Homo sapiens: one gene and its partner. The protein of the gene in region 1 interacts with the protein of each later gene in a biochemical or structural test. Each region holds a gene or a part of one and is shown on either strand. Other genes may lie near its edges.

Region 1 (7,614 bases):
GAGGGGAGGAAGGCACTCCTGAGTTCCCCCAGGGACACTAGGCCCGGCCCAAGACACTGTCAAGCTCCCTTCCACCAACCAGGGCCAGGAGATGAGTCAGAGGCTGTGGCCAGGAGCTTCCTCCTAGTCTAGGAGGAAATGAGCAAGGCTTTCTGAGATCTGAAAGCTCTTTAAAAAGGAAGCCCCCAGGGGAACTCTAGGGGCTAGGCTCGGCCCAATGGGGTGTGTGGGTGGAGTCCCAGGGAGAAAGCAGGCTGGCCTCTGTACATCCCCAGGGAGGGGGGTCATCTGCTGGGATGATCAGGGCCAGTACCCGGGGCCAGTACCCAGAGGAGGACAGAGGCCACTTGGCTGTGTCCTGTCCTCTGCTGGACAACTGTACATAGGACGAAGCAATGAGTAAAGAACCCCTTCCTCTTATTTCTGCCCTACAGCTTGGGACAGGGATGCCCTGGTTTCTGGGCCACCTCTTCCCTCTAGAGGGCCAGCAAGACAGGCCTGAGTCATGTCTGTGACTCTGGGGCACCCACTTATAGGACTACGGGAGGAACCAGCTGTTGACATTTCCTGCAAGGAGGGGCCCTGCTCCCCCTTGCTCAGCTCTCTGATGTCCCTGTCTCTGCCCTATTCTCAGCCCCTCTTCCTCCAGCCTTCTATTCTGGGGCTGTGGTCATAGTTTATATTTGGGTTGAGCACATCACAGTGCATCTGACCATTCCTGGCAGAGTTGCTAGCCCCAGGGAATCCTGGCTTCTGGCATTGTGGTAACCTAGTGTGCCACCTCCATATCCCTGTGGGGGAGGGAAGGCAGTCCTCAGGTACTCCAGGTGGGAGAACATGAAATCGGGGAGACCAGGAAGGACTGCATTGGGGATGAGGAACTTATATTCTTCACCGGAGCTCAGTAGTGTCCTCAGCTAAGGAGCAGGGAACACAGGGCAGAGCACCTGGTAGGGTTGGGTGGGGACACGGGTCCCATGAGAGGGAGATAGAAGGAGTGGTTCTGAGCCTCTTTCTTGCAGCTGACTTCCCAGGCTTGCCCCCAGCTGGGAAGAGGTGTGTCAAGGGGCTGGGCATGGTGGCTCAAGCCTTAATCCCAGCACTTTGGGAGGCTTAGGCAGGCAGATCACCTGAGGTCAGGAGTTTGAGACCAGGCTGGCCAACACGGAGAAACCCTGTCCCTACTAAAAATACAAAAATTACCTGAGTATGGTGGCGCACACCTGTAATCCCAGCTATTTGGAAGGCTGAGGCACGAGAATTGCTAGAACCCGGGAGGTGGAGGTTGCAGTGAGCCAAGATAGCCCCACTGTACTCCAGCCTGGGAGACAGAGCCAGAATCCGTCTTAAAAAAAAAAAAATCGGGGGGGTGGTGTCAGGGCTAGGTCCAATCCTTGAGTTGCAGGATGAGAGGAATACAATATATTCTCTAGTGCCCCACCCTTATTTCAGGATCCGGACTTTAGGAGCCTGGAAGCGGGAACCAGTCTTAGTTCAGCACTCCTGTCTTCCCAGCCCCCATCCTGAATGGGAGGTGGCCTCCAGCTGCACACGCTTCTTCCAGGCACACCTCAATTTGCCCCTCTGAATAGGGCAAGAGAAGCGGGGGCTGAGTCAAAACTGGCGGTGAGCAGTGTCCTGCATCCTTCCAGCCATGGCCTTGAAGCCGGGGTTCTGGCCTGGACACGTGCCACTCTCCAGGCCAATAGTCTCACCACCCCTCCCGCCAGCGCTCAGAGGCGGGGCTGGCCGCAGCGCGAGGAATGCGGGCTGGGGGCCCGGGGCACATTCCAGGGAAGACCCCAGGCCCAAGGGGCAAGTTTACGCAACTCGCCGCCCAGCTGAGGCTGGGAGCAGGGGAGGGCACCCACCCCGACTCTCTCTCCTCTTCTCCAGCACTGGAGGCGGCCGGGCTGGTGGGGAGCTTGTGGAGGTGGTAGTGCGCCTCCCAGAGTCCTGGCCCGGAAACAGCGCGCCGGAAAGGGCTGCCTGCGGGGGGCTGACGGCGGCGAGAGGGAGGGGAGAGGAGGTAGGCTGGCCATCTGGAAAAGGGCCTCTTTCCGCACTGTGCACAAGTCCGCTTCGGGGCGGCAGCAAAGTAGGGCAGGCCGGCTGTTTAAAATTAGTCCGGCCCTCCCTCTCACTTTCAGGCGCGGGCCGATGGGCGGCGAGTGTCCGGGGGTGGGGGCGGGAGCGGTGACTCAAAGGGCTTTTACACCCGTGCAGCCTCCTGCGCTCTGCGGATCCCGGGCCAGACCGCTTCGCGGGGACTCCCCTCACCCCGTGAAGTCTCTCCTCGGCCGGCACTCCCATACTCCCATTGACCTACAGGGTCAAGCCCCAATCCAGCTTCCTGACACCGCAGGAAACCTCTGCCACCTCTAGTAGTCCGCCTCGGGCCCGCCCCTCCTCGTGGTCCCGCCCCCACCTCACCTGAAGCAGGTGGAAGCTGGTCCCTCCCCAGCTCCGCCTCCAGGGTCCGCTACAGCCCAAGCGGCTACCGTCACTCTGACCAGGGAAGCCACCCTGGCAGACCGACGGCGAGTGGAACTCGAGCACCTCCCCAGGTGCGCCTAATTCGAAGGGCAGTCAGAATGGCGGAGCCAAGTTCCTGGCACCCCTCTTCAGTTTCCCCTCAACTTGAGAGGGGACTCCCCCGCAGGCGGGGCAGAGTGGACCCTGGGACCCCAGCCCAAGACTTTTCCGGAGAAGAACACTCGCTCCAGCCTCTTCCCGCGGAGCACCTCCCACCAGTTTTCATGGCGCCCACCCTGAACCCCCGATCGCCCCAACCTTTCTCCGGCCTCCCTCACCTTGAGCGGCGCTCCCAGCAGGCGGTGCACCGCGGGTATCTGCGCGCCCAAGGGCAGCGCCCCGTCCAGGCTGCAGGTGGGGGCCCGGCGCGGCTCCGGAAAGTTGGCACATGCGAAGGGGTCGGTGTCTTCCAGGTACTGCACCCTCACGGTCACCACTGATACCGGCTCTCCGTCCCCGCGGTCTTCCCCGCCCGCCATGGCTCTGCGGCCGGCTCACGCAGCGCGCCTCCGAGTCCCGGCCCCAGTGCAGCTTCTACTCAAAGCACACTGTAGCTCCGCGGTTCGGGCCCGGCCGGACCGGACGCGGCTGGAGGGGCGGGGCCAGACGGAGGCGGGGCCGAGGAAGGGGGTGGAGCCAAGATTAGTCCCCGAGTGCGCGCCAGGAGGTAACCACTGCCGGAGGCGGGGCCGCCGCTAGCCACTCACAGGGCCCAATGGGAATCCCGTTAGTTCACTGGCTAGGAGGGCGGGAAAAACCGAGCTCGCGCCCCACCTTCGAGAACGCGCAGAAGGCGGGGAGGCTTTCTTTGGTCTGGGGATAGTGAGGCTGCGTTCTCTTTGAGGGGTGTTAGGGCAGATGGGGCAGAAGTTTCTTTAGATAGTGGCCGGCCAGGTCTCTCTCAGTTGAGGGACAAGATAGCCCTCATTCCTTCCATTTGAGGGGTGAGTCCCTGTGGTTTCCTCATTTAGGGAAAGCAGTGAGAGGGGGTCCCTTCAATTTGGAGCAAGAAGTGAGAATAAATTCCACCCAGTTTGAAGGAAGAGGTGGGATCAGTTCCCTTTAGTTGTGGGAGGAAGAGGGAAGGATGCCCTTCAGTTTTCTGGGAAAAGATTGGGAGGAGTCAGTTTGAGGGGGCAGATAGAACACGTTCCCCTCAGTTTTGGAGAAAAAGTGGGATGGGTGCCCCTCAGCCTGAATGAAAAGTGGAGACGGTCCTCCTCTGTTTGGGGCGCTATGAGCCGAATGCCCCTCAGATTTGGAAAAAGTTGGGTGCATCTCGCCTAGTTTGAAGGGAATCAGTAGGCTGGGTTTTCCATAGGTTCCTGTCAGCTTCATCAAAGAGATGAGACAGTTCTCTGTAGTGTGACTGAAAGGGAGGGCCAGGTGCCCCTTGGTTTGGGAGATGAAGAACAGCCTCCCTCTTCGCCTGGCACGAGCTGGGCCAGTCTGGGCCTTAGGGTTTCTGGGACGTTGGGGGCAGCGTTGTCCGTCACTGCTTTGGGGAGCGTCCAGTGCGCGTGCGCAGCTCAGGTCCGGGTGGGGGCCGGCAGGGGGTCCTGGGCTTGGCAACGTGGGCGGAGGGCGGCCAAGCACGGTCCCCTGCGTTTTGCACCCGGCCGCGCCTTGGTCCCAGGGGGGTGCTGCTCGCCGCACAGCAGCGCTGGCCGAGGAGGAGCCGTGCCCCTCCCGTCCTGACCGCGCCCCCCGCAGACCCCCGCCCTTCCCGCTGCGGGCTGCCCCAGGGGGGCCGTGGCCGCGCACCGCTCTGGATCTGGTGGGGGCGGTTTTGGGGAGGTTTGGGGGCGCGGACTCGAAGGAGTAGGTTGTGGAACTTGGGGGAGAGCTGCACTGGGGAATTTCCGGAGCTGGGACTGATTTAGGGAGGAAAGAGGAGAGAGTCCCCGACTACGAGAGTCCGAGGCAGGGTCTCGGAGCCTGGACCTGGCTTGGGGGTATCGGAGCCGGGATTGGGGGGAGCGGGCCCCACGTGCCTGTGACGCGGGGGCGCCCGGTAGGTGGCGGCGGCGACGCGGGGCCGGCGGCCGTGCGGTGCCGGGAGGGCGGCTGGGCAGGCGGCAGGATGCTGCGCGCCGCCCTGTCCCTGCTCGCGCTGCCCCTGGCGGGGGCGGCCGAAGAGCCCACCCAGAAGCCAGAGTCCCCGGGCGAGCCTCCCCCAGGCTTAGAGCTCTTCCGCTGGCAGTGGCACGAGGTGGAGGCGCCCTACCTGGTGGCCCTGTGGATCCTGGTGGCCAGTCTGGCCAAAATCGGTGAGTGCGTGTGTGCGTGCGCCAGGCCGACCGCCAGCGGCGGACCCGCCCCCAACACCCCCACCTCCTCGGTCCTCAGATTGGGGCTGGCTTCTTGCACGGTGCTGGGACTTAGGTTTGGATTCCACAAATCCGGGCTCTCGCCCAGTTCCTGCATCGCTTCTTGTGGGTCCCAGGTCCCTGTCTTCTCCCCTGGGAGCTCTGAGGATTTGCCTTTCTGAAGGGCTGTCCCCCGCTCTCCCCAACTCCATCTGTAGGCTCCTTTGCCCTCTCCGCTCCCCTCTTCCCCTTGCAGTAGGCCCTCTTCAGTCTGGTCTCTCCCCCACCAATCCCTAGCCTCCCAGAAACCTCTGTCGCTGGTGAGGATGTGTGGGGACATTGAGGGGAGGGTGTTCTCCCAAGAACACAGGCATCCTGGTTCTGAAAAAGCAGCCTTCCCTGGAGACCATGTCCGAGTGTCCATTCCCTTGGGAAACTACACTGCCACTTTTCCTCCAGCTCTCCCCTGCTCCCCACTTAAAGCTGCTGCCTTCTTGTGCCTGTGTATGGGTACCCCCCCAACCCACGTTCAGGTCCACATTCTTCTCACTTCAGGGTATAAGAAACTTCCGTGTATCGGGGCCTTCCTGTGTGCTGTCTACCCTAGATGCTTTCATACATCCGACCTCTTCAGTCCTGACAGCATTGAAGGCTGTGCTTCAGACTTCTTTTTCCCTGAATAGAGCTGCTTTTCCTTGCATCTGCTCCTTCCTCCTCCCTTCTGAGCAGCCAGTGGTCCCTCCTCCCACCAGAGACCCTCCTCCTTCTCCCTGTTGTGCTGGCTCTGCTGTGGGGGTGACTAATTATAGCTGAGCGTTGCTACTCTCTCCCCATGGATGCTGGCACAGCCTGTACTCCAGTCTCACCAATACAGCCTTCATGGAGGAATCACCCAGAGCCTAGAATTTGCCCCTCTTCTCCCACATGGACACTGCTAGGGGGTGAGGGGGCTGGGCAGGAACAGAACTCTCCACTCTGCTGTGGCAGCCTGAGATTAATAATGGAAAGTGGAACTCAATATGCCTTCCGGGAGCGTGGTTCTGTGATGGGGCTTGGATCTCGGGGCTGGGGTTAATGCATGAAGAGATGAAGATGAAATAGGGTCCCCGAAGGAGAGAAGTGGGAGACCAAAGTAGGGACAAGTATGGAGAGATCTATGACCATGTTTACCTTAGAGGTCCAGCAGCAATGAGAGTAAGAGTAGAAAGAGCCTCAGGTTTGGAGCCAACGATTGGGTTTGCTAAGTCTGTGAGTTGCAGAAGAGTTCCTGTCTTAGGGTTTATAGCAAAAACTGTAGTTTTCCCCATAAATCATGGTTCTTTTTCTAGTTTGGATGACATTTCCTATGGAAGTAAGAGAAGAGAGCCTCCTTTTCACAAGTCAAAGAAAATCCTCGAACAAGAGAAAAGGCAGAGCATTCAGGAACACCTTCCCCCAGCTTCATTGCTAGGAGACTTTTTCCCTTTTATTAAACAAATATTTACATAGAGCTCACTATGTGCCAGGCACTGTTCTAGGCCCTTTGGGTACAGCTTCCAAAGGGCACTGTCTTGGCATAGGGTCTCACAGAGGCTAATTTAGAGGTCTCCTTCCCCAACACCCCAGGGATTATGTAGAGAGAGATGTGTTCGCTTGTGGTCTGAGGACTTAAAGGAGAGCCAAAGAGTTTATTTTAGAGGACAAAAGTAGGAGTGGCTATAGTGCTAGAAACGCTTTTCTTCTCCCCTCCTACAGACAGAACTGTTCTATTTAATTAACATTTGGTGTGTGTCTAACATACTATGTGTCTGACATTATGCTAGGCACATTTGCATACTTTATATCATTTTATCCTCACCCTTGATGCTGGGTATTTTTCCTATATTACAAAAGAAGAAATTGAAGTTCAAGTAAGTTAAATAATTTGCCTGAGATCACATAGAATGTGCTAAGGCTGGAAGAAGACCTGGAGATCTTCTGATTGCTAAAGCCAAAGTTTTAAAAACTACGCAGTCCTGAGTGAGCCCATATAATGAAAAGCACATTGGGCTAGGAAGTCTACACAGCTCCTAGGAGGTATAATATACATTCTGGTCTAGTTAAGGAGTGAGGACATTATAATAGGTAACATTTATTGAGTGCTTACTGTAAAGTAGTGTGCTAAGTGCTTTTGAGTAGATTGTCTTTTTTTTTTTTTTTTTTTTTTTTTTTTGAGACAGAGTCTCACTCTGTCACCCAGGCTGGAGTACAGTGGCATGATCTCGGCTCACTGCAACCTCTGCCTCCCAGGTTCAAGTGATTCTCCTGCCTCAGTCTCCCAAGTAGCTGGGACTACCGGCACCCGCCACCATGCCCAGCTAATTTTTGTATTTTTAGTAGAGACAGGGTTTCGCCGTGCTGGCCAGGCTGATCCAGAACTCCTGACCTCAGGTGATCTGCCCACTTTGGCCTCCCAAAGTGCTGGGATTACAGGCATGAGCCACCGCGCCCCGCCTGTAGATTGTCTTTTTTAATGGTCACAATAATCTTATGAGATCATTATCGTTTTTACTCCCATTTCACTGATGAGAAAACTGAGTCAGAGACATGAAGTTATTTGCCCTAAGATCACAGAACTAAGCTTTGAATCCAAGCAACTTGACTCCAAAGACCCTGATTTTTACAGCTTTCTTACATATAAAAAGATACTGGGTAGCATTAGCTGAGGTTCAAATAATGGCTATGGATAAGGGTTGTCAGAGAAAGGTGAGGTCCCCTGAGGATGAAAGTATAAAGGAAGGGACATTTCTAG
Region 2 (7,000 bases), on another chromosome or scaffold:
CTTTAAGAACTTGACCAGTCTATCCCAGTTCTGGCCTCAGGCCTCAAAGGCTATTCTTGTACTAAAGTTCCCTTTAGTTTAACAAAAATAAGTCAGTTAAAGAATTACTAAATTTCAGGCTGGGCGCAGTGGCTCACGCCTGTAATCTCAGCACTTTGGGAGGCCAAGGCGGGCGGATGCTGAGGAAAAGAGATCGAGACCATCCTGGCCAACATGGCGAAACCTCGTCTCTACTAAAAATACAAAAATCTGCTGGGTGTGGTGGCGTCTGCCTCTAGTCCCAGCTACTTGGGAAGCTGAGGCAGGAGAATCACTTGAACCAGGGAGGCGAAGGTTGCAGTGAGCGGAGATCACGTCACTGCACTCCAGACTGGTGACAGAACAAGACTCTGTTTCAAAAAAAAAAAGAATTACTAAGTTTCCCAAAAGATTTTTTGAAAAAAACAAAATTTGTTCACAATCCCAACACTGCCATTTTCATTTCTTCATAGATCTTTTTTTTTTTTTTTTTTTTGAGATAGAGTTTCGCTCTTCTTGCCCAGGCTGGAGCGCAATGGCACAATCTTGGCTCACCACAACCTCCGCCTTCTGGGTTCCCGTGATTCTCCAGCCTCAGCCTCCCAAGTAGCTGGAATTATAGGCATGCGCCACCACACCCAGCTAATTTTGTATTTTTAGTAGAGACAGGGTTTCTCCATGTTGGTCAGGCTGGTCTTAAACTCCCAACCTCGGGTGATCCACTCACCTCGGCCTCCCAAAGTGCTGGGATTACAGGCATGAGCCACCGCGCCCAGCTCTTCATATATCATCTAATATCAGTTACTCGTGTACTTTACAAAGTTGTAATAGCTTGCTTTTCATTTAGTAATTCATACTTTTTCTATATTGCTTTGGAGTCCTTCTTTATCCAATTTATATAATTTTAAAATTGGTAGAAATGTTATCTAATCCGACCCCTTCAATGAACAAATGAGAGCCAGGCATGATGGCTGGCGCCTATAATCCCAGCACTTCCAGAGGCAGAAGCAGGACAATGATTTGAGGCCAGGAGTTCAAGACCAGGCTGGGGAACAAAATAAAAATAAAAATAAAAAATAAAATTATTTTAAACCAAAAAAATCCACAAATGAGCCATTAAACATCTTTCTAATCTATATCATCTAAAATAACTGGGCACTGAGGCTGGGCGTGGTGGCTCACACCTGTAATCCCAGCTGTAATCCCAGCACTTTGGGAGGCCGAGGCGGGCGGATCACGAGGTCAGGAGATTGAGACCATCCTGGCTAACACGGTGAAACCCTGTCTCTACTACAAATACAAAAAATTAGACGGGCGTGGTGGCAGGCACCTGTAGTCCCAGCTACTCGGGAGGCTGAGGCAGGAGAATGGTTTGAACCTGGGAGGCGGAGCTTGCAGTGAGCTGAGATTGCGCCACTGCACTCCAGCCTGGGTGACAGAGAGGAGACTCTGTCTCGAAAAAATAAATAAATAAAAAAGAAATAAAATAACTGGGCACTGAAACCTCCTATAGTATGTTAAGACCAGTTTATGGCTGCTTAAATTCAAAATGTGGCAAGGCCTGGTGGCTCAAGCCTGCAATACCAGCACTTTGGGGGGCTGAGGGCGGGCAGATCACCTGTGGCCAAGAGTTCAAGACCAGCCTGGCCAACATGGTAAAACCCTGTCTCTACTAAAAATACAAAAATTAGCCAGGTGTGGTGGTATAATCCCAGCTACTTGGGAGGCTGAGGCAGGAGAATCGCTTGATCCTGGGAGATGGAGGTTGCAGTGAGCTGAAATCTCACCACTGCACTCCAGCCTGGGCGACAGAGTGAGACTCCGCCTCAAAACAAAACAAAACAAAACAAACGATAACAAAAAATAATGTACTAATATGTTAAAAATAAATAATGTAAATAAGTAGCCAAAACATTAAAAAAAAAAAAACTATCTTCCAGGACGAACTGGGTTATATGGGAGTCAGTGGAGAAACATACAACCAAATGTCAACTTTTAATACTAATCAATATGGTCATATCTAAACTTATCTCCAAAATTTTAGAACAAATTTTAGAACCATAACGATATGGTTACAAGTAATTTTGTTAACAAAAAGAAGGAGAGAAGGCTTTAATTTAGGTACTAAATTCACTGTGACAAAGAATATAAAGCAATCTCAGAACAATCCCAATCTACCTATAAAGGAGCTACACCATCCATGTGTAGAAAGGTACTGGAACTGGTGTGAATGAAGGCAGATCATGTTTCCAGTGAAGTATTTTCCCCAGAAGGCTCTAAGCTAGTCAGATAGGTGCCCAAAACCTGCACAATTCTTGGTAACCCAAAGGAAATAACAGGAGTTGACAGTTACTCTCAGAGAAGGCCGTGCATATAAACGTGTCTTTTTTCTTTTTTTGAGATGGAGGCTTGCTTTGTCACCCAGGATGGAGTGCAGTGGCGCGATCTTGGCTCACTGCAAACTCTGCCTCCCAGGTTCAGGCCATTCTCCTGCCTCAGCCTCCTGAGTAGCTGCGACTACAGGTACCTGCCACCACCATGCCTGGCTAATTTTTTTTTTTTTTTGTATTTTTAGTAGAGACCAGGTTTCACCGTGTTAGCCAGGATGATCTCGATCTCCCGACCTCGTGATCCACCCGCCTCAGCCGCCCTAAAGTGCTGGGATTACAGGCATGAGCCACCGTGCCCTGCTATAAACATGTCTTGAATGAAGCTGTATTTTTTCTCCACTGGTATGGGTATATAATCATTTTAAATTGTTAAAAGATTATTTAAAAGACCCTGTTTGGCTGAGGGCAGTGGCTCATGCCTGTAATCCTAGCACTTTGGGAGGCTAAAGTGGGAGGATCCCTTGACGAAAGGCCAGTTCAAAACTAGCCTGGGCAACAAAGCAAGACTTCATCTCTATAATCAATCAATCAATCATTAGCTGGGCATCGTGGTGCATTCCTGTACGCTGAGCTATTTAGGAGGCAGAGGCAGAAGGACTGTTTCAGCCCAGGAGTTCAAGGTTGTAGTGAGCTATGATCACACCCCTCCACTCCAACCTGGGTGACAGAGTGAGACCCTGTCTCAAAAAAAAAACACACGCCAAAAAAACAAAAAAAGACCCTGTTAACGTTGCTGAAATCTTTCTATCATCACTGCATTGTGCAAAGAGGAGGAAGGCATTTCACAGAAGTGCGAAGCAGAAGTGGCAGAGGAAAGAATAAAAACAAAAAGGGAGTAAGAAAAAGTTATTTTGGAGGGCCAGGCATGGTGGCTCATGCCTGTAATCCTAGCACTTTTGGGAGGTGGGTGGATTACGAGGTCAAGAGATCAAGATCATCCTGGCCAACATGGGGAAACCCCATCTCTACTAAAAATACAAAAATTAGCCGGGCATGGTGGCACGTGCCTATAGTCCCAGCTACTCAGGAGGCTGAGGCGGGAGAATCCCTTGAACCCGGGAGGCGGGATTGCACCACTGCACTCCAGCCTGGTGACAGAACGAGACTCCATCTCAAAAAAAAAGAAAAGAAAAAGTTATTTTGTCCTTGCCTTTATTCCAAATCTTAATGCAGAAGAACAGACTGATAACCTATGTAAAGATTACAAGTACAGCTAAAGGTAGCTCTAGATAAAGGAAAGTTGAAGCCTGCGCTTCCCGGAATAGACTACACCTTAACATTCCCCCTGACATGAAGACTTCAAGCCCTGGACTAGTCTCTTAGGGATTAAGAGAGATTTTAAAACATTATATAAAACAAACAAAATCTATCTTCTTATAATTGGAGAAATTTGAATAGGAAGTGAATGATAGATAATATTAAGGTGGCTCACGTCTATAATCCTAGCCCTTTGGGAGGCTGAGGCAGGCAGATCATCTGAGGTTAGGAGTTCGAGACCAGCCTGGCCAACATGGTAAAACCTCGTATCTACTAAAAATAAAAACAATTAGCCAGGCGTGGTGGCACATGCCTGTAATCCCAGCTACTTGGGAGGCTGAGGCAGGAGAATCATTTGAAGCCAGGAGGCGGAGGTTGCAGTGAGCTGAGATCGCGCCACTGCACTCCAGCCTGGGCGACAAAAGTGAAACTCCATCTCAATTAAAAAAAAAAAAAGAAAAAGAAAAAAAGGGGCCAGGTGCGGTGGCTCACGCCTGTAATCCCAGCACTTTGGGAGGCTGAAGTGGGTGGATCACCTGAGGTCAGGAGTTCGAGACCAGCCTGGCCAACGTGGCGAAACCCCATCTCTACTAAAAATACAAAAAATTAGCCAGGCCTGGTGGCAGGCACCTGTAATCCCAGCTACTTGGGAAGCTGAGGCAAGAGAATGGCTTGAACCCAGGAGGCAGAGGTTGCAGTGAGCTGAGATCGAGTCACTGCACTCCAGCCTGGGCAACAAGAGCAAGACTCTGTCTCAAAAAAAAAAAAAAGATAGTATTAAGAAGTATTATCAACTTTCTTAGGTGTGATAATAGTATTGTTGTTACGTAAAAACCATCCCAATACTTAAGGGATACATGCAGAAGTATGAAGGGGTAAAGAGTTCCAATACCTGCAACTTTCAAATGGTTTATCCAGAAATTTACAAAAATAAAGCTTATATCTTCGCAGCTGCTGCTGGGGTCAATTATCTTCTGAATGAATAAACCTCCAACTACTCTCTGGTCTGGACCACCATCCCCTCCTTGCCCCCGCAAAAAAGTTCCTGGCCAGTGGCTCACCTCTGTAATCGCAGCACTTTGGGGGACTGGGATGAGCGGACCACCTGAACTCAGGAGTTCAAGACCAGCCTGGGCAACATGGTGAAACCCTATCTCTACAAAAAATTAAAAAATTAGCCAGGCGTGGTGGCATGTGCCTGTAGTCCCAGCTACTCAGGAGGCTGAGCTGGGAGGATTGCTTGAGCCCAGAAGCTTGAGGCTGCAGTGAGCCGTGATCATGCCATTGCACTCCAGCCTGGATGACAGAGCAAGACCCTGTCTGAAAAAATAAATAAATAAAAATTAAAAATCAGGTAGTTGCCAGGCACAGTGGCTCACATCTATAATCCCAGTACTTTGAAAGTCTGGGGTGGAAGGATCATTTGAGGCCAGGAGTTTGAGGCTGCAATGAGCTATGATTGCACCACTGCACTCCAGCCTGGGCAACAGAGTGAGACCCTGTCTCAAAAAAAAAAAAAAAAAGTTCTTAGGGTCTCTTTCCCACAATGCCCTCTCTAATTGACAAATAGTTGCTTCTTACTCCTTTATGGCAACAAATGAGAATAAAACTTTGCACTAGAACTCAAAAAGTACAGAGCTTTACAAATCACTTAACCCAAAACCAGTTAAAGGTGTTAGTTATCCATGCATTTCCATTTCAATAGGAGGCAGAAGACAGCCTGGTTTTCTGAAGTGACAGAACCTTCAGGCTGGTGAGGGCTGTGAAGGGTCCTACATTTGGAGGCACGAGAAACCTGAAGTTGAATTTCTACTTACATTCTAGCCATGATATTGTTCTCAAGCAATTGCCTTTGCCAGGCTTGTACTCTGTTAGAACTCTATCATTACTACACTCTTTCAAACAAACAAAACCTTACCAACCTGTGCAACTTACTTCCTAAACCTGTTCAACACCCTTCCCGTACCACATGACATATACCAAAAGGTAGAGACTAAAAATAATCTGCATTCATTACTACTTGAATGGCATGAATTGTTTATCAAGGTGTTTTTGTGGTTGTTGTTTGTTTTTGTTTTTTTTTGAGACAGGGTCTGTTTCTCCCAGGCCAGAGTGCAGTGGCACGAACATGGCTCACTGCAGCCTTGACCTCCCGCCTAAGCAATCCTCCCACCTCAGCCTCCTGAGTAGCTGGGACTGCAGGCACGCTTCACCATGTCCAGCTAATTTTTTTTAAATTTATTTTTTTGTAGAGATGGGGTTTCCCTATGTTGCCCAGGCTGGTCTTGAACTCCTGGGCTCAAGCGATCTGCCACCTTGGCCTCCCAAAGTGCTGGAACTACAGGTGTGAGCCACTGCGCCTGGCCTCATAAAGTTTTAAGTAATTCACAGCCAGCTTATTGCTACAATTAAGTGAATTAAGGGTGATGATTACAGAAACTCCTAAGACATTTGTGGCTTTATCCCCGATTACACCTTTTTTTCAAATAAGCTTTATGAAAATGCAGAAGTCTGAAAGAAGGTAGTAGAACAAAGATAATTTAGCAAATATGCCAATAGAAAGCATTTCTTAGACAATTCCTGTTAAAACATCATAACAGTTTCATAAACTGTTAAAAACTCCTTTAAAAATTTTATTTCCTTATAATTGGCAAAACATCTGTACTTAATTCCTAATCAACTGTCCACTACAAAAAGAAGTATAAAATGCTGTCACCTCCCCAATGATATAGCCCTACACATAGTTTTTATAACTAGTACATGCAAATGGTATTTTCCCAATAAGACGATTGTTAACTATGGTTCAAAATAATAACACTCACATGAAGTTTATTATACCAGACACTATTCTAAGTAGTTTGCATAATTCATCTCATGTAATTGTCGTAAGAATCCTATAAAGTAGGCACTATTATTATTCTAATTTTACAGATGATGAAACTGAGGATCACAGGTAATTCTTATCCAGAATTACTTTTCCAAACACTTACTGTTATTCATTAAATATCAAATACCAGCTAATCTAGTCATGTAGAAATTCTAATCTTTTTAAATTTGCAAAAAATATGGTTAAATATAATCATCAAATTCCAATGCACAGCTTTTGCACTGAATATAAATTTAGTATTCCTCAATTATGTTACATTTTGTACTGGCAAAGGAAGTAGTAAAATGTCTTATAATTGTTCTTAAAGTGCTTCTGATAGATAGTTTTCCAAATTCTTCATAGAAGAAAAGGCAGATGAAAATGGGACAAATTCCACCTCTCTACCCACTCCAGATATCCGTTTTTATTCTTCAAAATCTTTTGCATCATACCAAATTACTCCTTGAAA

What was found.
Region 2: the proteins of SLC9A5 (region 1) and CHP1 form a complex in vitro, tested with the Homo sapiens proteins (one study listed by BioGRID).

What each region holds. Positions count from the first base shown.
Region 1 is NC_000016.10:67,244,397-67,252,010, forward strand, and holds the start of SLC9A5 (sodium/hydrogen exchanger 5 isoform 1 precursor), read left to right. Parts: upstream 1-4,582; 5' UTR 4,583-4,618; coding exon 4,619-4,805; intron 4,806-7,614. Other genes in the region: FHOD1 (FH1/FH2 domain-containing protein 1), read right to left, coding at 2,814-3,014. UniProt on the Homo sapiens protein: Plasma membrane Na(+)/H(+) antiporter. Mediates the electroneutral exchange of intracellular H(+) ions for extracellular Na(+) in 1:1 stoichiometry, thus regulating intracellular pH homeostasis, in particular in neural tissues.
Region 2 is NC_000015.10:41,234,268-41,241,267, reverse strand, and holds part of CHP1 (calcineurin B homologous protein 1), read right to left. Parts: intron 1-7,000. UniProt on the Homo sapiens protein: Calcium-binding protein involved in different processes such as regulation of vesicular trafficking, plasma membrane Na(+)/H(+) exchanger and gene transcription. Involved in the constitutive exocytic membrane traffic.